Linked DNA regions of Homo sapiens: region 1 is linked to region 2. Evidence: fine-mapped expression QTL. A gene starts in region 2. The other region holds a variant in brackets. All regions are shown on one strand. Distances are from middle to middle.

Region 1 (11,588 bases), 45 kb before region 2:
CAGCTGAGTAGCTGCAGCAGGGAAAAGAAGTCTTTCATTCAACTGATCCCACAATCTAGACCCACCTGGGCATTTCAGCACATGGTGGTGGGCTTGGCAGAAAAACCCACGAGTCCCCAACTCCTAATCCCTGACCTCCCCACCTCTCTCACCAGGCTCTGTGCTTCCTCCCTCTTCCCTCACACCCTCCCACACACCCATCCTCACTCTCTGCCCCCCTCACCCTCACCCTCACCCCTAGATGTGCTAATTTCCCCCTCAGCTTCGGCTGCCTCCACCTGTGTGTGGCTGATAAGCTCACAGACCTCCAGCCTGCCTGCTTCCAGCCAGCCACAGTGTGGCCCTGGGTGCTGAGCCTTACAGGCCCTTCCTCATTAATCCTCATAACAGCCCTATGAGGTGGGGCTACTACCATCTGAAGAAACCAAGGCCCTGGGAATTTCAGTGATGAGTCTGAAACCGTACCTTTAAGTAGTGGGGCACAGATTGAAACCCAGGTGTGCCCGAATCCCAAGCTTATCACACATACAATCGCTAGACCAGACCACGGGCACGTCTCAAGCACTCCAAACTCACAAACCCCATGCCAGACACCGGGAGTGCTGATTTGTTAAAAGGGAGGAGGAAAGAGTGGCTCCTTCCCCTTCAGCCTGCTCATCTTACAGAGGTCACTTTCTTGGCAATGTTACTCCCATCCATGTGCTGCACAGGCCAGAAACCTGGAAATCACCCAGGTCTCTCTCTCTACCTCACTCCCCAAACACATCCACTCTGAAACCAGTTTTGTCCTAAATATCTAAATATCTCTCGGCTCTACCTACTTCTCTGCGTTTCCCATTATCACCACCTGAGTCCTGGCCACCATTATCTCTCACAGTGGCCTCCCAATTTGGTTTCTCCTCCCTCAGTTTCGCCTCTGCACACAGCACAGTCAACAGTGAGTGACAGCTCTAAAACGTAAGTTTGGCGATAGCACTCTCTTACTTGAAATCCCTCAGCAGCTTCAGGATAACTGTCCTCAGGATAACTTCCAGATCTTTTTTTTTTTTTTTTTTTTTTTTTAGACAGAGTCTCACTCTGTCACCTAGGCTGGAGTGCAGTGGCGCCATCTCAGCTCACTGCAACCTCCCTTGCCCGGGTTCAAGCAATTGTCCTGCCTCAGCCTCCCGAGTAGCTGGGACTACAGGCACACACCACCTCACTGGGCTAATTTTTTTTGTATTTTTAGTGGAGATGGGATTTCACCATGTTGGCCAGACTGGTCTCAAACTCCTGACTTCAGGTGATCTACCCGCCTCAGCCTCCCAAAGTGCTGGGATTACAGGCGTGAGCCACCGCGCCCAGCCTGCAGATCCTTTTTTTTTTTTTTTAGACAGGGTCTCGCTCTGCTGCTCAGGTTTAAGTGCAGTGCCGTGATCATAGCTCACTGTAACCTTGAACTCCTGAGTAAGCCCTGCTGCCTCAGCTTCTCGAGTACCTGGAACTATAAGTGTGCACCACCACGCCTGGCTAATTTTTTTTTTTTTTTTTTTTTTTTTTTTTTGAGACAGAGTCTCGCTCTGTCACCCAGGCTGGAGTGCAATGGCACAATCTCGGCTCACTGCAACCTCCGCTTCCCGGGTTGAAGCAATTCTCCTGCCTCAGCCTCTCGAGTAGCTGGGACTACAGGCGCCCACAACCACGCCCGGCTAATTTTTTGTGTTTTTAGTAGAGACGGGTTTTCGCCATGTTGGCCAGGCTGGTCTCAAACTCCTGACCTCAGGTGATCCACCTGCCTCAGCCTCCCAAAGTGCTGGGATTACAGGTGTGGCGTGAGCCACCATGCCTGGCCTTACCAATTATTTAACTTTCCTTGAAGGCCCTACGCTCTCTAGTCAGTACGCCTTTGCACATGCTGTTCCTCTGCCTAGAACACCGTCTTGTCCTCACTTCTATCCCCTTCATCCTGCAGGTCCTTCAGGTCTCAGCTTAGATCTGAAGCAAGCTTCTTGGGGAAGGGTTCTTTGGACGCCCCCTCTCTCCATGGGTTAGTTACCATGGATGTGTGCTTCCATATACTTTTCACATTCTAACCATTAACACACAGCTTTGTAGTCGCCTGTTCCCTTGACTTTCCACCTCACTAGGCAGTATCATCATTAACTTTTGCATTCCTTTAACTGAACAAACGTGTGTTACTTGTTAACTATGTGTCATAGTTACACACATACATACACGATAAAGACCCAGACCCTGCCCTTGAGATGAGTAACTGCGTCTCTTCTCTGGGGTCTCGGCGTCTAACAGCGTCAGGTCCAAAGCGCTTGTTGAACGAATGAACCAAGGAACGAGTGAATGAACGAATGAATGCCCGCGAAGGACGTGGTGCCGCGCGGTCTTCTGGGAATCGTAGTCCCCTGGTTCGGGCCTGTCTTTACGGCGCAGGCGTATTCACATGGAGGCCGTGTTGCTGTTAATGCGCATGTCCCGGAATGCGGCTGGGAGGACTGCGCATGCTCGAAGGGTGGGGGTTGAGGCCGACGGGGCGCCGTACGGCGGAGGCGGGGTTTCAGTGGCTTCTGGTGCTCTAGGGTGAGCTCTGCCCGGCTGCAGGGATGGCGGGGAGGGGTAAGCTCATCGCAGTGATCGGAGACGAGGACACGGTGACTGGTTTCCTGCTGGGCGGCATAGGGGAGCTTAACAAGAACCGCCATCCCAATTTCCTGGTGGTGGAGAAGGATACAACCATCAATGAGATCGAAGACACTTTCCGGTACGGTACCGCGCGAGGCCTGAACGGGCCCTTCTGCTGCTCGGTGGAGTGCGGGGCGAGGCTGGAGGCTGCCCGGACGGGGGTGAGGGGACGATCCTGAAAGTCCTTCCGCCCTTCCGGAGCGGAGGCCTCCGCGCCCCAAGTCCCCGTTTGGGGCTCGGTGGGACAGAAGCTGTATCAGGTCCACGAGCCCCCCCACCTCACATGATCGTGTGTCATGAAAGAAGGGGAACAGAGCTCGTGACAGCCTAGACAGTGGGCTTGGACTTTGTTCTGCTTTCTCCTCCTTTAGAGGCTCACCATCGTCCCGTAAGGCAGGGATGATTTTTGTCCTACTCACAGGTGAGAAAACTAAAGCTCGGAGAGGGTAAGGCACACACTAAAGTTACGAGTCGGCAGAGGCAGAGCTAGAATTTGAACCCAATCTCAACCCTTTCTGCCTCCGGTAAGCCAGGTACACACTCTTGGCAGGTCTCCTCAGGCGGCCTCGGAATTTCCTTGTAGTCTTGAGCACAGTAGGCAGAAATGTCGGGACTGTGAGAGCCTTCTGCTAAGACCTTGCACTCAAGCCCTCACTGCCTGCCTTAGGTCAGAGTGTGGGTGCAGGCATGCTTTTAATCCACCAGGGGTCCTGGTGACTGGAATTAAGGATACCAGCCTCCTATTTTATTCCTCACCCCTTCTCCAGGGCCCCTGTACCAAGTCTCAGGAATAAACCACTCACCTGTTTCCCCCAAACAGTCCAGCCCAGGGCTGCTGGCTGAGACTGGTTCCTGCTGCCTGGTGTATTAGGTAGTCCCTGACCTGGGAGGCTGTTATCTGCCATTCTCTAAGCTGTCTGGTAAAGTGACCCAAGTTATCATGGGAGAAGGACAAATTTTACTTCAAGAATTTTTTATGTTTCCAACCAAAAGGGACCTCAGAGATCAAATCTAACCCAGTGACTGGCAGGGGGTGGGTGCTCAGTAAGTAATTTTTAATCAGTAAATAAACGAATGAGTCTGGGTGCAGTGGCTCACGCCTGTAATCCCAACAGTTTTGGAGGCCGAGGCGGGTGGATCACCTGAGCTCGGGAGTTTGAGACTAGCCTGACCAATATGGTGAAACCCCATTTCTACTAAAAATACAAAAATTAGCCAGGCGTGGTGGCGGGTGCCTGTAATCCCAAGAAATCAGGAGGCTGAGGAAGGAGAATTGTTTGAACCTGGGAGGTGGAGACTGCAGTGAGCCGAGATCCACCACTGCACTCCAGCCTGGGTGACAGAGGGAGACCCTGTCTCAAAAAAATAAAAATAAAATAAACAAATGAATGGGTGGGTGACCACAGGAGAGAAGGAGCACAAGGCCAGGTTCTTTTTGTGCAGAAAGTGTGATTCCTTCATCAAGGTGTCCTCTTCCTAGCTTGTGATCTTAGTTCATGCCAAACTTTCCCTCTGACCCCTCCACCACCCTCATCAGGATAGACCTTGAGGCCTTCAGTGGTCTCATCAGCCCTATTTTTAAATAATTTGTTTTCTTTTTAAAAGTTAATGTGTCTTTTTTTTTTTTTTTTTCTGAGACAGGGTCTCACTCCTGTCACCCAGGCTGGATTGCAGTGGCGTGATCGCAGCTCACTGCGGCCTCGACTTCCCAGGCTCAAGTGATTCTCCCACCTCAGCTTCCTAAATAGCTAGGACTACAGCTTCCCAAGTAGCTGGCACATGCCGCCACATCCAGCCATTTTTTTTTTGTGTGTATATATATAGATAGATAGATAGATCCGCCACATCCAGCCATTTTTTTGTGTGTGTATATATAGATAGAGAGAGAGAGAGAGAGAGAGGGAGATGGGGGTCTCACTATGTGGCCCATTCTGGTCTCAAACTCCTGGGTTCAAGCAATCCACCTGCCTCGGCCTCCCAAAGTGCTGGGATTACAGGCGTGAGCCATCACAGCTGGCCTTCAGTATCTGCACATAAAAAGGGATCTGCATACATATAATCTTATCCTTCCCCTTTCTGACACATCACTGCATATTGAATACACCAGTGTGCACCCTAATCAATCTTCATTACCAGTTCACTTGGAAGCCTTCCGGGCAGTGTTGTAGAAGCCAACCCTAATCAGCGTGACCCTCCGCTTTGGGATGAAATTGATTCTAGGTAGGGTTGACAGAGGGTTGAGCGTGGCAGCCTTTCCCCTTGTCCTCTGTGCCCTCTGGGTCATGCTCATTCCCCTCCACAGCCCAGCCCAACAACTCGGAGAGGGCTGCCTGGGTAGGAGAGACGGCAGCCCCCAGAGCTGTCCTGGACTCCCTTCTCATCTCTCCCCACAGGCAATTTCTAAACCGGGATGACATTGGCATCATCCTCATCAACCAGTACATCGCAGAGATGGTGCGGCATGCCCTGGACGCCCACCAGCAGTCCATCCCCGCTGTCCTGGAGATCCCCTCCAAGGAGCACCCATATGACGCCGCCAAGGACTCCATCCTGCGCAGGGCCAGGGGCATGTTCACTGCCGAAGACCTGCGCTAGGGGACTCCTCATAGCCCTCAGCCCTTCCCTCGTTTCCAGGCCTCTCCCCAGGCTTGCCATCAGCCTTCTTTACTTTTTGAGCCTCTGATTTCCAATTCCCTGCTCCTTCCCACTCCATTAAGAGGCTAGGTGAGGCGCTTCTAGGTTGCTGGGGCTCTGCTGGTTAAGGAACAGGAAGCCTGACCATCTCCCTCCACTACCTCTTCCCTGTGCTGTTACACAGTGTCATTGTTGATGTTAAATTAAAGTCATATTCTTGCTTCTCTCCAGATGGGTTGGGTGCTGGAAAGGACATGTGTGGGGTGAGGCCATGGGGCAGATTCGGTTGGCAAGGATGGAAAAGGTGCTGCCAAAGACAGGCATAGAAGAGGTGGCCCAGGAGGATTGTGCCGGGAGGCAGAACTCAAGGACTGGTCCTTGGATCAGAGAAGACCAGCTCTGGTCTGGGGAGGAATGGGAGGAGGCTTGAGCCCAGCTCCTGCTTCCCCCACCTTGCTCGGCATTGGGCTGGGAAGGGGGCCAGATCCAAAGGACAGAAGCAGAAAGCACACGAAACCTGGGAGTCTGTGATGCCAGATCCCGCGAGGGCCCTGCGGGAGTTTTGGGGGGAGCAGGGCTCTTAACCAGTGGGCCCTGGCCTCAGGCTGCCTCAGGAAGCCAGGCTCATGGGGTCTGCTGGGGGCATGGCAAGTAGAACCCTGGCCCTGTGTGAGGTGAGGCATGGTTGCCAGGTGACTGTGCCTGGGCAGCCACTCGCCGTCAGAAGCACTCTGCTTGCTGTGCTCACCCCTCAGCTGTGGCCACCCTGGTGCCACTCCTTCCCTGGCCACCATGTCACGGCAGCTCAACATAGACGCGTTACGGCAGAACTTCTGGAAGGAGGAATATCTGAGGGAAAAGATGTTGCGCTGTGAATGGTACCGCAAGTATGGGTCGATGGTGAAGGCCAAGCAGAAGGCTAAGGCTGCAGCCCGCCTGCCCCTCAAACTGCCCACCCTGCACCCCAAAGCCCCACTCTCACCCCCACCCGCCCCCAAGTCAGCCCCTTCCAAGGTGCCCAGCCCTGTCCCAGAGGCGCCTTTTCAGTCGGAAATGTACCCGGTACCACCTATCACCCGAGCCCTGCTGTATGAAGGCATCTCCCACGACTTCCAGGGGCGGTACCGCTACCTCAACACTCGAAAACTGGACATGCCAGAGACGCGATACCTCTTCCCCATCACCACCAGCTTCACGTATGGCTGGCAGCTGGGTGAGCCCAACCTCTTGGAAATCACCTCAAAAACAGAGCACTAGCCATGTGCTAGGGAGTGGGCATCCTGGTGAAGGGTCCAGAC[T/C]ATAAACAGAGCAAGGAGATGGCCAAGAAGTGTCGACACGTTCCACAGAACTAGGGAGTGGCGGTGGGCAGGGAGGCAGCGGCCACGTGCTGCTATTTATTGGATTGTCAGGAAAGGCCTTTCTGAGGACCCGAGGCTGAGAGCCAGATGATAAGGATGGGTTTGGATTTTATTTGTTGTGCAGGGAAGCTGATGGAGGGTTCTAAGCAGATTTCAAGAGTGACACTGGTGAACCTTTTAAAAAGTCACCCTGACCTGTATGTAGGCAGTGGCTTTTTCAGGGGAAATGGTAGAATCTGGCACATGAGTTGGGCATCTGTTTGGTTATCCTGTGGTAGTGGCCTGAGGGATCAGCAATAGAGCTGAAATCAATTCAGGATGTTTTGGGGGAAGACTCGGTGGAACTCACCCATGGATAGAATGTGAGAATAAGGGGAAGAGAGATCAATCACCCAGGTGTTTGTTTAGCTAAAGCTGCAGTGACAGGGAAGACTGGGAGAGGTCAGGGCTGGAGCGTGCATGAACAGGTCCTATTTAGCCATGTGTGTTTGGCTATGTTATGCTTGAAGTGTCTGTAGGGTGGCTGTGTCTATAAGTCTGGATTGAAGTCAGAGCTGAAGATGCAAATTCGGAGGTCATTGGAATATAGGTGCTTTTTTTTTTTCTTTTTCTTTTTGAAACAGTCTGACTCTGTCACCCAGGCTGGAATGCAGTGGCACGATCTTGGCTCACTGCAACCTCTGCCTCCCAGGTTCAAGAGATTCTTCTGCCTCAGCCTCCCGAGTAGCTGGGACTGCAGGCGTGTGTCACCACGCCCAGCTAATTTTTGTTTTTTTAGTAGAGACAGGGTTTCACCATATTGGCCAGGCTGGTCTCGAACTGCTGACCTCGTAATCTGCCTGTCTCGGCCTCCCAAAGTTCTGGGATTACAGGCATGAGCCACCGGCTGGCCTATAGGTGCTATTTAAATCCATGAGATCTCCTAGGGAGCTCAAGTTGCTGGAATCTGATGGGAGTGGGGGCAGGAGGGCTGAGCCAGAGCGGGTAGGGGATGTCATTGGCAGGAAGCCTGTCCATCTCGGCTGAGTCTTTTTTCTGTGAGGTTGAGTCAAGGCCATCAGCGGGGAGGGAGCTGAGCTGAGGCAGTGGAGTAACTAGAGATGAAGAGGAAAGGTGTGGAACAGGCATGTGCCAGGCAGGGCTGCTGGGCGATGTTGCTGCACGTCCCATTGCTGTCTGTGCTCATGAATGTCAAGTGAGACTCCTCAGCCCTGTACCCTTCTCCAGCTGCTTGAGTGTCTTGCAGAAAAGGTGGATGGTTGGGGATTGACTCAGTTGAGATTTTGCCCCCAAACATCCCTTTCCCCCAGGCCCCTAAAGGGGAAGTCAGGGAAATAACTTTCTAACAAAAGCAGGAGGCGAGCCCTAGAAGCGGGGAGCAGGAGGCCGAAGGAAATCTCATCTCTCCACAGTCTGTCCCTGTGACAAGCAGGCTAGGGTGGCCCCCCTCCCTGCAGGTAGAGGATCCTGAAGCTAGGGTAATGATGGCAGATGGCTGCTGTATCCTGGCATCCAGCCAGCTCCCAGTATTTGCCCATAGCTCCCATTCCTCCAAAGCACTTTCTATTTCTTCCCACAAAGTGGCTACTCCACTGACGGATTCCTAGGGCTGTGCAGACAGACAGGGCTCCCATGCTCTGCGTGTCCCTCCCTCAGGAACCCATGCTTGGCCTCTGACATCTTTTCCCAGGCCCCCCAGTGAAGCAAGAACTGGTCTCCTGCAAGATGTGCCGCATTGAGTCATTCTTCCGCAAGAACGGGGCCTTCGCACTGCTTGATCCCCGAGACCTGGCCCTCTGACCGTGGGCCAGGTGTGGGCTTAGGGGAGGGAAGAAGAAATAACAGGCCTCCTGGTGGGGCAAAGCTGCTGTGTGTGTCTGTGCCCCTCTGCTCTCCCTGTCCCTGAGGTTGCATTCAGGCCTTTCTGAAACTATCAGACCTGCAAGTTGCCCTCTTGCTTTTTCCGTAACCCTCATCACTTTAATCATCCCTTTGAGGACTCAGCAATGACCAGAGGGTGCTGGGAAGGGCGAGCACTACTTCGCAGGCACGGGATCCTCAGCACCAGGGGAACACAGTAGTTCCAGGAAGTTCTGGGTGTTCCTGGGGAGAGAGCGGCTTGTCATTTCGGAGGCCAGGGAAAGGGGCCTCCTGCCACCGCCACACCCCTCCTTGCCCGCCCCTCACCTGGCCCCGAGGGCCCGCAGCCGCTCCGTCCTCTCCCGATGCATTTGCTCCAGCTGCTCCCGCAGGGCGCGCCGCCGCCCAGCCGCGTCCTCCTGGCGGTGCGGAGCGCTGAGCGTCCGCGGCTCAGTGGGGCGGGCGGGGCAGCACCTGGCACACCTGCCCCTCGCGCCCCGCCGAGTCACTGCCAGAGTGCAGTGCGCTCACTTCAAAGGGACCCGGGCGCGCTAAGCTCGGCCCCTGCCCCGCGCAGGCTCCTTGTGGCCCCACCGCCTTCTAGGGGTCTTGCCTGTGGCGGGAGTTGAGCCGGACTGGGCGGGAGCCCCACGGGGTGAACCCGGCAGTGGCGGTTCCTGGCGATGTGGAGGCGTTCCAGGACCTGCAGAGGCGGCAGTCAGCGTCCGGCCGCCCCTCGGTGCCCCGCCCGCTCCAGGCAGGCCCCGATCCCGGCGTGGGGACACACCCGGAGCCGCTGCTGCTCACGGTCCCGCCGGCGGCGCTGCCGCCTGGCCGCGCTGTGCAGCTCCAGCAGCCGCTGCAGAGCCGTCACCTGCTGCGCCGCGCTTAAGCCCGCAGGCGCCTTGGCGGTGCTGAGGGGCGCCGGCCACGCGGCCTTCAAGGCCTTGGGACGCTCAGGGCCGCCCCACCCGACCCCGGAGGGCACCCGGAAGCCAAGCCTGGCCCACCTCCTGCTCCCCCGGTGCGGGGCCCACTCCAGGGCCCTGCAGCCCGTGCGGATCGCGCTCCAGGCCTGGGGGCCCCGGAGAGCCCCGAGGAGCCCCTGCTGCCCGGATACCTCGGCGCGCAGGGTCGCTGGCATCTCGGCTCCGGCTCCGCGACCTGGGAGCCGCCGCCGGGCCGGGGGCTTCGGGCGGGTAAGCGCAGCCCACGCCCCCTCCCGGGCGGCCCCCAGCTTTGCCACCGCCGGTGCCGACCTTTGTGGCTCGCCTTTGATCATGCTCTGCGTCAGCGTGGTAGTCCTTCTCCGGAGGTTTGGGCTCTCCCTGCCCACAGGCTTTGGAGTCTGTGCTTTCAGGGACCCGCAGGAGTCCCTCGGATGGCTATGGGGGTCGCCTTCCTCTGGGGGCTGCACAGTGGCCTCTCCGGGAGCCACCTCCCAGGCTTGTGAGATATTGCCTTCCCAAGACCGCAGCATCTTCTTCCCTGGACTCTGGGGACTCGCCTTTCCCTGGCACTTAGGACTAAATTCTCTTCGACTCCTCCCTCTGACCCTGAGGAGCCCTTGGGCTCTGGCCCCCGTGTGTCTTCACCTTCTGACTCTGAGGAGCATCTTTGATCTCGCCCCAGGAGGCCTCGGCTCTCTTACGCTGAGGGGTCTCCGCTTTCTGATCCTGAGGGTCCTCCTCTCAGACTCAGGGGTGTCCATCCTTGGTGGTCTTTGAAGTTCTGCTCTCTCCTGGCCCAGGTGCGGGTCCGAGCCCAGCCCTTCAAGGGCATCTTGGGAAGGCAGGTTTTGGGAGGGCAGGTCCCCCGGCCCAGGGGTCCCGGGAGTGAGCTTTCTTTTCTGGGTCTCAGGCTCTGCCTCACTCCTCTCTTCCCTCTGGGCCAGGTCCTGGAAAGGAAAAGCACTTTGGGCCCAGGTTTGAGAGGGAACCTGCAGACCCCAGGGGCCAGCCTTTGCCTGATTCCTGAATTTGTTAAAGCCATTTTATGTAGTGTGGAAGGTGCTTCACTGAAGAGCCTCCTCCTCACCCCAGCAGCCTCCTCCCAGGCAGACCCACCCCTGCCATCCCCAACCTGAGACCCTTGACCTTTTCACCTTGCACTCTGAGCTACCTGGCACCCCAAAACTCCTCCTGGTAGTGGGGTTGAGCTCTTGTAAGGAGCCTGAGGAAGAAAGACCAGTATTGGGAGCTCATGTCCCAGCCCCTCATGCACAGTTCACCTAGACTAGAGCCAGGAAGTTTAGGGAGTCCCAGTGCATGGCTAGGGGTGCCCTGAGGGCGCTGTCTGAACCTCAGGCTGTCACAGTTCATCAATCAGCCAGCCATGCACCTGTCAGGTGTGCCTGCCAACAGCCTGCCCCATCTTTCTCATCCTCCCAGCCAAGGCAGACCACTCCAGAGGGACCTGCACAGCCCCTTCCTCAAGACCACCACAGGAGGCCTGGGAGTGAGAAGGGTCACGGTGCTGGGTGCCTGGGTTCCTCAGCACCGGCCACTCCCACTTTGCCCTGGTGTGCCCATCAGGCCCAGAGAAGAAACCCGCTCTGGGCGTCTTACTTTTTACTCTTATTCAGAAAAACCTTCCTTAGCCTTTTCTTTGTTTCTGACAGCAAAATCAAAGGAAATTCAAGATGAAATTTTAGGCCAGAGCCTGGCCTAAAAACTGCAAGTGTTCATAATTAACAAAAGAAATCTAAAAAAAGAGATGATGTGTTGCCGCTCCCCTGCAGCTGTGGAGGAAGGAGAGCTGTTCTGCATCCATAAAAACCAGTTAAAAGGGATTTCATAAGGTCTGAAATTGAGAACTTTCCCAAGAATACTGCATCTTGTTCTCTTGTGCAATATACAGACGTGTGAATATTCCTAACAGTAACCAAATGGGTGCACTCTCTGTGAAAACGCATCTTTCAAAGAGTTTTTTAAACAAAGGAGACTCCTGGGCCTTTAGAAATAATTGCCACAAACTGCAAAAACAATCTCCAACCTCCCACTTCTGTAATTCTCATCTGTTGTCTTACTAGAAAATTTATTTCTCTGGTAATAATGTTATAAT
Region 2 (11,588 bases):
ACACTATCACCTTATGAGCCAGTAACACCCCCCTGCATAGCCATGACCTCCTCTTCCTCCCAGCTCTCTTCATGTCCCCAGCACCACTGCTATCCTAGTGTCCCAAGCTCGGCCTCCACTATTCCAGGGGACCCAGCCAGTCACCGGCTCCTGCCCGTCCTTTAGAAACATCCCCCTTTCTCCAGCCCACTGCCATCCCTGGCTCCATGCCTAGACAACTGCTGTCACAGCCCCGACGCCTCTGTCTGCATCTAGCCCTCACCAGGTGAATATTCCTCAAGCGCCCCCTTGACCATGCCACACGCTGCTTCAGCCTTCAATACCCCCCACTGCCCATAGAAAAAAGTCCTAATTGCAAGGCTTACAGCAGCCTGTTCCCACTGGCCTTCCCACATGGACTTCCTGCAACCCACCTCTCTCCACCCTGTCCTTGTGCCCAGAGGAACCTCACGTACTCCCTCTCCTTCAGGTGGAACCCCACTTTCCCATGAAGACCCAGCTCAAAGGACCCATTGTCTGTAAAGGCCCCCTGACTGCCCAGCCTCGACGGGCTTCCCCTGCCTCCTGTGCCCTCCTCTGGCAAAATACACACTGCACTGCCTTCTACACCTCCTCTTAATCTGCTCATTGGGTCTTCAATCTTGTGGTAGCTTGGCTATGAGCTTATCTTCTCAACTAGATTGGAGGCTCCCTGAGGGCAGGAAAAAGATTTTGTGCCTGTTTCCCTATGGTCTCTGGCTCAGTCCCAGGCCAGAGCCAGTATTTGCTGATTTGTGCATGGGTTCTGCACTCCCCTGGCCACTGTCAGAGTGAGTGGGTAGGCACCCCTGGGCATGTCCCAGACTCACTGAGGTGGCAGGCTGTGTCTGTGGGCCAGAGAAGGCAAGCAGGAGGTGGGGCTGAGACTGGCAGGAGGCTGACCTGGCTTACAGTGCGGGCAGCATGCTCCTGGCTCAGGGCAGGGTCCTCTTGGGCATGGCTTCTGGTTGCAAGTGATGGTACCTTCCTGTGGGAGCAGACTGAGGTGGCTGCACAGACATCAGATTCCTGGAGGGCAGGGCCTCTGGAAGTAAAACCTCAGCCCAGGCTGGGACATGTCATAGGGGCAAGAGGATGAGTTGGCTCTGTGGATGTGGGCTACCCTCTGTGTAAAGGCAGAAAAGAGACATCCCGCCCCCACTCCCATCGTCTCCTGATGCTCTTAACCCTAGGAAACCATCTCTTCCAGGTGCCAGCACATTCCCCAGAGAGGGGAGATCCTAGGAAGAAGACCGAAGACTTTCTCAGGGAGGAAGGAGGAAGGAAAGACTGGGGGAAGGTGGATGTGGCAACTGGTGAGGGAGAATAGGCAGGCCAGGGGGTTCCGAAGTAGAAGATGGGCAGTGGAAGAGTGGGAGGTGATATAGGAGGACAAGCAACTATTAAGTTGGTGCAAAAGTAATTGCGGTTTTTGCCATTAAAAGTCATGTCAAAAACCGCAATTACTTTTGCACCAACCTAATACATTCTCTGCCCTCCATGCCACTGTTGGCCAGGTCTGAATTGAGTGGCTTGGGGACCCCCCAGTGTCCGTGGGCATTGAGCTCCTTTTCCTACTCGGAATCAACTGAAAGCCACCGTGGCAAGGTGTGGGAGTGGCAGGCAGAGCCCATTATGCGACATCTTGAGTGCCACGCTGCAGTGACAGGTAGCTGGAGAGAGGCAGACAGGTGAGGGATATCCAGGTAGGTCCTGGGAGCTTACCAGACAGCGGCAGGTGGTGCAGGCATCTGGGGAGAAGGTCTCCCCGTTGCCGTAGGTCTGGCCATTTTGGCTGCAGCCTAAGGAGACAGCAGTGTCACTCAAGCACCCCATGCCATCTGCAGGTCTTTAGGTGGCCCCAGTGGGCGGATAGGGTGGCACTTACCCCTGCAATGGGGCAGGTGTGCTTGGGGGCCACAGTGAGCGGCCCCATCCTGGCAGACGCAGGCTGTGCAGGCGTCAGGCTCCCAGCGTGCCCCCTCGGGCCAGGCACGCCCCAGCCCCCAGCACTGGGGAGATGCAGGGTGGCACTCACAGGACTCCAGCTGCCTCACCCTCGTCTGCAGGTCCTTATTCTGGAGGAAGGAGATGGAATAGCAGGCACTGGCTCAGCTTCCCCCACCATCTCCAGTAGAGATGAGGGGTGTGAAAATGAGGCAGGATGAGAAAGAAGTTCGCCAATTCCAGAGCAGAGATGGGTCCCCCTCGGTCAGCATCCAGCTCAAACGATCACCATTCTCAGGGGGGCACGGGCCCCAATCTCTCCTTTGGACAAAATGGGGACCCAACCCTTGCCCCAAGAATTAAAGACATCTTTACCCATCCAAAATATTTTTGATGATGCCTTATATAGAATGCATTCCATAACATTCCCCAAATACATGGAACAGTACGAAACACGAACTGACAAAACAAATAGCCTGGAGGTTCTTCATTTGCATGAAAGAATCAATGTTAAGAATTGTTCTGGCCAGGCCTGGTGGCTCACACCTGTAATCCCAGCACTTGGAGAGGCTGAGGCGGGCAGATCACCTAAGGTCAGGAGTTCGAGACCAGCCTGGCCAACGTGGTGAAATCCTATCTCTACTAAAAATACAAAAATTAGCCGGGTATGGTGGTGCACACTTGTAGTCCCAACTACTCAGGAGGCTGAAGCGTAAGAATCACTTGAACCCAGGAGGCAGAGGTTGCAGGGAGCTGAGATTGTGCCACTGCACTCCAGCCTGGGTGACACATGGTGACTCCATCTCAAAAAAAAAAAAAAGAAAGAGAGAGAGAGAAAGAGAGAAGAAGGATGGAAGGAAGGAAGGAAGGAAAAGAAAGAAAAAAAAAGAAAGGAAGGAGGGAAGGAAAGAAGAAAGGAAGAAAGAAAGAAGAAAGAAAGAAAGAAAGAAAGAAAGAAAGAAAGAAAGAAAGAAAGAAAGAAAGGGAATTGTTCAGATAAGAGCTCTATTTTAGGCTCCCCCCTCCAAGCCTAACTCCTTCTCTCCCTCCCACTATGAGAAGCCCTCCTTACCCAATGCAAACCAGCACTGTCTCCATGGTACCTGTTCTCTGAGCTCCATCACTGCAGCCTCCAGTCGCCCCAGCCACTCTCGCAGGGGGTGCCACTGCTCCTGGGAGTTCCCAGCAAGGACTGAGGAATGGGCAGTTGTCTGCTGCCCAGGGGGCTCCCTGGGGACAGCCCCACCTGAAGGGCACAAGAATCCCATGTGGGCCTGAGGGTGAGGGGCTGGCCTGGCCACATTTTCTGGGTTCTGTCTTCTGACCCACAGGGGAAGGGGGTCATCCTGTGCACCCTGCCCTCTCCAATTGCCCACCCACCATCCAGGGCCGGGAAGCCAGCACAGGCTGAAACGCAGGGGAAGGCCACAGACATGCGCCAGGTGGAGCTGCTTTCAGGGGTCTGGGGTCTGGCTGAGAGTCTTTTCAGGGAGAACATGAGCAGCCCCCATCCCCTGACTCTCTGCACCTGTCAGAAAGGCCACAACTTTTGGAGAATGTGCTCAGGGAAGGACAACTGCTCCCGCCCCCAACCCTGAGCACGGTTTTCCAGGCTTGTGACAGGGGTTCCTGGGGGCTCCCACATTGGGTGGGGTGGGCTTCAAAAGTGGGACTTGGCTGCATTTTCTGAAGGGTGTGAGAAATGTGCTGGCAAGGCCCCTGCTAACTTTGAACACACCAGATCCAGTGAAGACAGCCTGTCCCTGCTTCTAGAAGACACTATGTCCAGGAAAGAGGGACGGGGCACCTCTGAGCTCTGGCCTGGGGTTAGGGGCGGCCACTTTCACCTTTTCACTTTGATCCTTCTCCTGCAGCCCAGAAAGTAAAGGCAGGAGGGGAAGAGGCAGACATAGGTCCCTCCTCCAGGCAGGGATGGGCAGGGAAGTTGAGGGTCTGGAGCGGAGGCAATAGGAACAGAGAGAGGAGGAGGGAGAGGGATGGGTCTTTCCCACCATGGCAGCTCATTAGTGAGGCCAGGCCTGGAGTGGCTTAAAAGGGTTTCTCACAGACACTAGGCCTGTGAGACAGGGGAACAATGTCACCCACTGTCACCATCAAAGGCAGAGGGGATTCTAGGCTAAAATTGAACTTGCTTTGTCCCAAGTTCCCTGGCTTGGTTAATGCCATCACACATACCCAGTTACTTAAGCCAGAAAGCTGGGGCTCAGCTCCCCTATTTTGTTGCCTGAGTTGTCCCCTAATACATCCCCCCCTTCTCCTCTCTCCACCATCTCCATTCAGAAGGCTGAAGACAAAGCGTCCCTGCCTCCATCTGTGCCCCTTCTCTCCACTCGACCTTTCTGAATCACACAGCCGAAGTCTCCCAGGAGCAAGTCCCGCTGGGATGGATCACAAGCACCGCCCACCTTTCCAGCCCCGCTACTTCTGGCTTATATCAGGGATTCTAACTCAGTTCCCGCACCCTGGGCGAATACTGGCCCTCAAACCCCAGGTGCCCTTTCCCATCTCCGTCCCTCTACTGGGGATCCTGTCACCCGGAATGGCACCCGGTCTCAGTCCTTCCCAAGCACACAGAGGGCGGCCACGATGGGCGTCTCAGCATCTGAAACCTTCTACCCAATCTAGACTCCCGTGGGGCCTCATCCTGCTGCCCAGGGCCCCTCCTCCCAGGCCACTCCTCCAGTTCTGCTTAAGTAGGCAGGCAGGATATGGGAGCCCGGGAGAAGCTGAATCCTCTGGGACCCCTAGGTGAAGCTAGGGCCAGCCTCGCCTGGAGAGACCTGCAGAAAGAGCTCCGAGTGGCACAAACTTGGCTGGTCCCCAAGGAATTGTCCCGGGTTCCCCTCTTAGCCTCCCCTGGCCCCGTGCCGGCACCGAGCCCTCCATTCCCGCCTGTCCTGCTCCGGGGAGGGCCAGACACAGATGCAAAGTCAGCTTCCACAGCGGGCCCCTTTTCTCCCCCTCCTTCGTCAAGACAAATAATTAACTTCAGACTCCCAGATGCCAGGGCAGCCGCACTCTCTCCCGCCGCCGGCTGCAGGAACCGCCCCCCTCTCCTGAACCCCCTGCTTTGGCCGTGGTCTTCCCCACCCTGCTCGCTCCCCCGACGGGGAGGACGGAGCTGGCCAGGGAGGCGCGCGAACCTCAGGCAGGGCTAAGAGCAGAGCCCCCAGCCCCTCTCGGCCCCCTCAGGCCGGGCTGATAGGAGGGAGGGGGCGCACCTGGCCGGACCCCAAGCCTCCCGCACCTGGACTCACCTTCCGCGCCCGCGGCCAGCGCCAGGGCCCCGAGGTGCAGGAGAAGGGACAGCGCAGCGGCCCCGACCCCGGCCATGCTAGCTCCGCCTCGCTCGGCTCGCCGTCTGTCGTCGCGGCTCAGCAGGCGCTGGGGAAGGCGGGGTGGGGACACACAGGCCGCTCCCACCCAGGCTTTGTTCAGGGAGGGCTCAAACCCCCCACCGCGCGCGCCTTTCCCATGCACACCTCCACCCGCCCCGGGCCCGGCCGGTCCTGACCCCAGAGAGCAGCTCCAGCTCGCAGGAAGCCCAACGGGGGTGTAGGCCTTGTCTCCGCTTAAGATCCAGGAGGAGACCCTGAAAAGAAAATAAACCCAAGTCCACCCCTCTCGGGATCCTAGAGAGTCTCCCTGCCCTTTTAGGTTACTCCATCGCCCTAGGGTTTCCAGATCGATTTTTCCTCTCTCTCACAAGTTTACAGAAGAAGCAGACTGAGCTGGGTTTAGATCCCTGCTCAGCCAATTCCATGTGGCCTTAGACCACTAACTTCTCTGTGCCTCAATTTCCCTATCTGTAAACTGGGGATCACCACATCTACTTTATAGACTTGCAGTGAGCATTAAGTGAGATTATATAAGTAAAGAATTTAGAGTCGGTAGAGAGATGGTAAATGCTCAGTAAATAACAAATAATAATAATAAGAACTCCTGATCTCTGAAATCATGGACACGACCAGTGTTTTCCTCTCTCCCCTATAAGTTTCTTTCCTGAACTCCACTCAACACCCCTACCCACCCCAGCAGTCCCAGGCTTGGCCCCAAATGCCAAGGCCGCCCTTCACTGGCTGGTCTCAGCCCCATTTCCCACTCCTGAGCTCAGGCCTGGCTGTGGGGTGAGCCTGGGTAGGGGGCAGGGCTGGGCCCTGGGCTCAGCAGGCAGAGGGGGCCAAAGGGAGGAAGTGAGGACAGCCGTCCCTGTGGGCCCACAGGCTGGGAAACTCCTCCTTGAAGCTGGGAAGCAGAGGGTTGGGTCTCACAGGCGAAGCTCACAGGCAAAAAGGAACATTGAGGGCGGAGCTGTGAACCCTTCCAAAGCTCTCCCTCCCTGTCATAAAGACCAGAAGTCGGAAGCCACCCCTCCCCCTAGACCAGGCAGGGACTGAGGTCTCCCCAGCCCACTCTCCACCAAGCTTAAAGCTTCAGTAAGGAGACGGCAGCTTCTCTGCCCCAGAGTCTGGGCCCATAGTGGACCTGAGCCTTTGCCACAGGGGGCAGGGAGGCTGCAATGCCACGCTAAGACCTGGCCTCAGTGCCTGGAGCTGAGGTCACAGAGGAAAGCCAGGGCCAGCCAGCCAGAAGAGGAACAAGGAAGCGGCAGCACTATTCCTGGCAGGTTTAAGGAAGGTGGCTTTCATTGACCGGGTGCCTCTGGAAAGCAAGTCCTCTGAGGGGCTGGGTAGTGGGACGGTTCAGAGCACAGATTCTGGCAGGGTTGCCAGGGCGCATCCTGGAGCTCTTGCTTTCTGCTCTGGGGCCTCTGGCTGGTCACTTCACTTTTGGTGGCTGATTTTTCTGAACTGTGACTGGAGCTCTAACAGCACCCACCTCATGGAGTGTTTGTAAGGATTAGTAATGCATGGTGCTTGGCACAGAGGTATGAGCAATTTTTACTTCCCTTATGAAGAATGGGGGCACCTCCATCCCCATTTTACAGAAAGAATCAGAGAGAATCAGGGTGAGCAGCTCTAAACCACACTGGGAGGATGCACAGGGCTTCCCTCGCCCCACAGTCCCCTTCCAGTCCCTTGTGTCTTAGCCTCTGCCACTGAGCCTGGCCCCAGTCGGCCCTCATATCACATTCCCAGGGAGGGACACTGTCCTGACACAGAAAAGGTCCTCCAACCCCTGGGGTGCGGTGGGGTGGGGAGGCTGGGCCTTCACTTCACCCCCAAGGCAGGTGTTTGTAGTGTCTGATTCTGTGTGTGTGTGTCTGGGTGTGGCACATTTGTGTGTGTGTGTGTGTGTATGTAATGTGTGTTTGGCTGGAGGTGGGGGCTGAGGCTGGGGAGGCACTTTTGGGACTCAAGGGACCTTGACTTTGAAGGGGCTTCCAGGGACACTTTCGTCACCCCACTTGACGATAAGGATGTAGTCCCTTTCTCCTTGACAGTGTAGGTGACATTGTACACCCGGTTCCCCATGTGCTTCACGTACACCTCCTCACAGGGGGTCTTGGGGCCGTGCACGCCCACCATCATCATGTTGGTGCCTGGAGAGGGAGGCAGAGGGACAGGCTCACACCAGGGAGTCCCCTACTGTGACCCACACCCTGCTCCCTGACGGCTTCTTGCTCACACCCCGGGAGACGCCCTCCCCCCGCCACCTGCCTGCTTTGCTGCAGTCCACGGTGAAGGAGTTCTTCTGGCCCACGAAGGCCTGGGACAGCCCAGGGCCCCGAGTCACCACCTTGCTGGCATCTGAGGAGAACTTGGGGATGGAGTTGTAGCTGGAGCCCCGGCTTGAGGAGGACTTGGTCACAGTCTCCACCAGAACCGTGGATGTTTCGTGAAGGCTGTGGCCTCCGGACAGCCTCGGACCTGAGGGGTGGGTGGAGGGGGCACAAACCTAGTCAGAAGGGCTTCCCGTTCTTCCCCAGGCAGGGGACCCTCGGCCAGCACTGCCACCCTGTGGGACTCACTGCCTGCATTTGAGGTTCCCCCCCAAATTCCTCCAAGGGCCACTCTAGGAGCACAGCCCCATTCCCAGCCAGGGCCCTGAGCTGCCAGCTCCAATTGGTGCTCCACCCTAGGGCTGGGGCCTCAGATGCTGCGTCCCTCATCCTTGCAGGCTTTGTCTGGGAACTCAGGCTAACTCACAGGGTAAGAGCCACTTTACAAAGGAACACCCACCCAACTCATCCTACAGACAGCCTCAAGAGGGGAAGCTTGCTCAATACCGACTGTGTCTTCTTGGAGCGGAGGAATATGGGAAGCCAGGAGGGAAGAAAGTGGTGCTAGAGCCTGAGGAGCCAGCGCAGGCCAGAGCTGAAGGAGTGAGGGGCCACGATGGAGAGGAAGAATGGCATTTTTACATGATCATGCCCGACTCCACAGAACGTGTACTGTGTAGAGCCAGGCCCACCTCTAGCCCTGGTAAACTGACCATGATGTCTGGGGGCAGACTATGGCCTAGATGTGCGTGGCCACCGGAGCCCTCCAGGCTGGGCTGGGCTGCAGGCTGGGTGGACCTCCCCCAAACCGGCACTCACCAGTGACCTTGGCCTTGAAGGGGCTGCCCACGATGTGCTGGGGGCCACCGTACTTGATGGCAATGAGGTAGTTGCCAGGGGCCATGGGAGTGTCAGTGACCACGTGGCCCTCAGGACACTCCCAACAGTCCAGCTGCACCTTGGTGGGGCCATCAATGGTGACAGACAAGGTCCCCGAGCAGGCGTTCAGGGCGTTCACATGATCTCTGATGACACACCTGGGGGCCAGAGGTAGCAAGGCTGAGGGCAGGAAGGGCTTGTGGCCCAAGATGGGCTGTGCCTCAGCTCCCTGGGCAGCCTCTGTGAGGGGCTGCCACTGCCCCATGCCCAGCCTGGCCCCTGCCTGCCAGCCCAGCCTGGGGGCAGGAGGAACCAGGGTCCAGTGTGCAGTCCACGGCACGTACCTGCTCTGAGGGGCACTGGCCTAGCTGTGCTGGGTACCAGGCAAATGAGAGGTGATATGCCCTGTCCTGGCTGAGGAAGGCAGAGCCCCACACTGTGTGAAGCAGTCTGAGGGCAGAAGGCAAGTGCCTGATGGGCTGTGTCAGCTCTGGACGCATGAGCACTAAAATGTGGGAAGCTGAGTGTGGCTGGACTAACCTGGGAGAGCTTTGGGGAGGAGGCGGATCAATGGGGAGGACTGGAAAGGCTCTAGGGGAAAAGGAAATAAACTTGTTGGGGGAGCCCCAGACCTGGAATATGAGGAGGGGATGCACAAGGGCTCCCGACGGGCTGGTAAAATCTCACAGCCAACCCCAGGGCCCCAGTGGAGTCCCAGGCGACAGTCCCCTCACTCCAGGAGCTGCAAGGCTTTGGTACCAGGGGGCTGCTAGGGGAGGAAGTGCCACAGCAGTCCTAGTAAGAGTGGCCAGACGGCAGGCGCCCTGCTGCCTCCAGGGTTGTTCTGGGTCGCATGTCTCCTTGCAAACCCACACCCAGCTCAGGGAGAGGACAAAGGTTTTGCTGCATTGGGCCTGATCCTAAATCCCACCCCTCCAGGTGAGCTGTCCACACCCCAGGCCCTGCTGCTTGCCTGGTCCAAACAGGCTGAGGCTCTGGGGCAGCAGGTGCCCAGAAAGAAGCTTCTTTCGGCTTCCTCCGAGAGGCAAGGTGGGGGAAGACCAGGGTACAGGGGGAAAACCCCCAAGTAGGGCCTTCAGATGAAAGGGGGTGATTTCCCAGTGACTCCCTAGACTCTTGGATCCCCTCAGCCCCAGCCCCAGGCCCGACAGCTACGGGGTAGGGGGAGGATGGAGGTAGGGGGAGGGGAGGTCTTGACAGTTTTCTCTGTGGACACAGCCGGTGCACTTTCAGGCCCTGGGGACTGGGTCCACGGGGGCCCAGGCCCACTCCAGTCCTCTGCCCCCGCTCCCCGCTTCCCCTCCGCCCCCCTCCCCCCTCCCCTCCGCCCCCACCCCTCCCGCTGGCTCCGCGGGGGCACACCCCCTGGGCCAGCCCGTGGAGCCACCCTCACCCCCAGGGACGCTCCTCGGCTGCTAGAGCAGCACCCCGGTCCTCGCCCTGCTGTGTCCAGCGGGGCCGCGAGGCTGGGGAAAGTCCCCCACTCCCGCCTCTGCTCCCGGGCACCTGCTCCCGCCCTCCCGGGTCCGGAGACAACCGCTCAAGGCCAGCGCTGGTCCTCGCCATCTTCCTCCAAATCCCAGCCATGCTAGTCTCACTTTTCCTCCACGTTCAGCCTCTTCATTGTTGCCTTCTTAAGTTCTGGGACAAGACCTACAGAAACCAGCCCAGGAACTATTGCGCCCCATCCTTCTCCGCTGCTCTGGGGGCCGGCGTCTACCATTCCCGGCCGCGAGCCCAGGGACGGACGGAGCCTCTACCTGACACTATCTTCCCCCAAACTCTTGCACAATTCCTGCCATTGGCCTGAAGATCCCGGGGGATGAACGCTTTAAACCTCCACCTTTTTTTCCGAAAGGGTTAGGGTGACCCGGGAAGAGCGAGGGCGAGTGCATCGAAAGTAAGGATCGGGCCTCGCTCCTCTGTGGACCAAGCCAGCCTCCAGCAGGGCGCCTGGGAGCCCCCATTCTGGGCGATGGCGGGGTGGGGGTGGGGGGGTGGGAGCAGCAGAGCCTGCGCCCCCAGCTGCGGTGCCGACCTCGCCGCCTGGGCCTTGGGGTTCCCTGGGCGCCAGCACCTCAAACGGATCGGGGCGTGAGGGGCGCCTGGGAGGTCCCAGGCCGGCGGGGCGCGCCCTGCTGTAGGCACCCACCGAAGCTCGGTCTCCAGGCGCAGCTGGACGCGGACCCCGCCCTACTCCAGTCTTCATCCGGTCGCCCGCAGGTGCCTGAGGGGCGCGGGCCCTGGTTGAGGCCTAGACTTGTGGGTGGGCAACAGCCGGTACCGCTCCCACCACCTTCCGGACGCGGGGACGCGGGGACGCGGGGACGCGGAGAGGAGAGAGCGGCGGCCGGGACCCACCTGTCTGCGATGCTCCTGCGTGGCTGCGCCCTTGAGCACTGGTGGGGCGGCGGGGCCGAGCTGACTCTGCCCGGGCTGCGCTGGGTTCTTCTGCACCGCGCCGGCCCCGACCGGAGGGACCACTCGAGGAGGCTGGCACTTACCGGTGACTACTGACCTGGAGGGAGCATTGGGCCAGGCCCAGGGCCTGTAAGGAGACGCCAGACAGATAGCGCGGTGGCCTAGACGACCACTGGGCTTCTTCGGCAGTCTGGAACAGGGAAATAGTAATTCCATAACCTCAAATTCCGCTCCGCGCCCCGCCCCCCGACTCCCCCCAGCTCTGAAGGGTCCGCAGGTCTTCCCCAGTCCATGCTATCGTTGAGCTCTGGCACCTGAAAGAGATGGTTTCCCGGGTCAAGAGCATTAGGATGCCAGGTGGTGGCTTGCGCCTGTAATCTCAGCACTTTGGGAAGGCCAGGCAGGAGGATTGCTTGAGTCCAGAAGCTGACCAGCATGGGCAACATAAGGAGACCCAGTCCCTACAAAAATAATAAAAAGAAATTAGCCAGGCGTCATGGTGAGCGCCTGCAGTCCCAAGCTACTCTGGAGGCTGAGGCGGGAGGATCACTTGAGATGGGGAGGTCGAGACTGCAGTGAGCCATGATGGAGCCACTGT

Direction of the effects. Alleles are on the strand shown, and positions count from the first base shown. SD is a standard deviation of normalised expression in the study named.
For the expression in anterior cingulate cortex of the gene that starts at base 5,352 in region 2, T is the low allele of the variant in region 1 and C is the other (small effect, 0.25 SD a copy in GTEx).

What was found.
Region 1: its variant is fine-mapped to the expression of KCP in anterior cingulate cortex (GTEx, PIP 0.98).

Annotation. Positions count from the first base shown.
Region 1 is chr7:128,860,311-128,871,898 of GRCh38, forward strand. ATP6V1F (ATPase H+ transporting V1 subunit F) reads left to right here and starts at 2,546. Exons shown (of 2, transcript NM_004231.4): 1 at 2,546-2,752; 2 at 5,067-5,537. The coding sequence starts at 2,595. The coding sequence ends at 5,268. SPMIP1 (sperm microtubule inner protein 1) reads left to right here and starts at 6,020. Exons shown (of 2, transcript NM_001195150.3): 1 at 6,020-6,520; 2 at 8,356-11,588. The coding sequence starts at 6,100. The coding sequence ends at 8,465. It overlaps FLNC-AS1 (FLNC antisense RNA 1), which reads right to left and starts at 2,316. Exons shown (of 4, transcript NR_149055.1): 1 at 2,215-2,316. RefSeq lists enhancers at 2,160-2,269, 2,350-2,839 and silencers at 8,888-8,997, 9,128-9,647, 9,708-9,827. The variant T/C (reference allele first, on the strand shown) is at 6,606.
Region 2 is chr7:128,905,358-128,916,945 of GRCh38, forward strand. It overlaps KCP (kielin cysteine rich BMP regulator), which reads right to left and starts at 5,352. Exons shown (of 40, transcript NM_001366122.1): 1 at 5,244-5,352; 2 at 3,069-3,211; 3 at 1,907-2,096; 4 at 1,744-1,820; 5 at 922-1,006. The coding sequence starts at 5,319. It also overlaps the pseudogene LOC392787.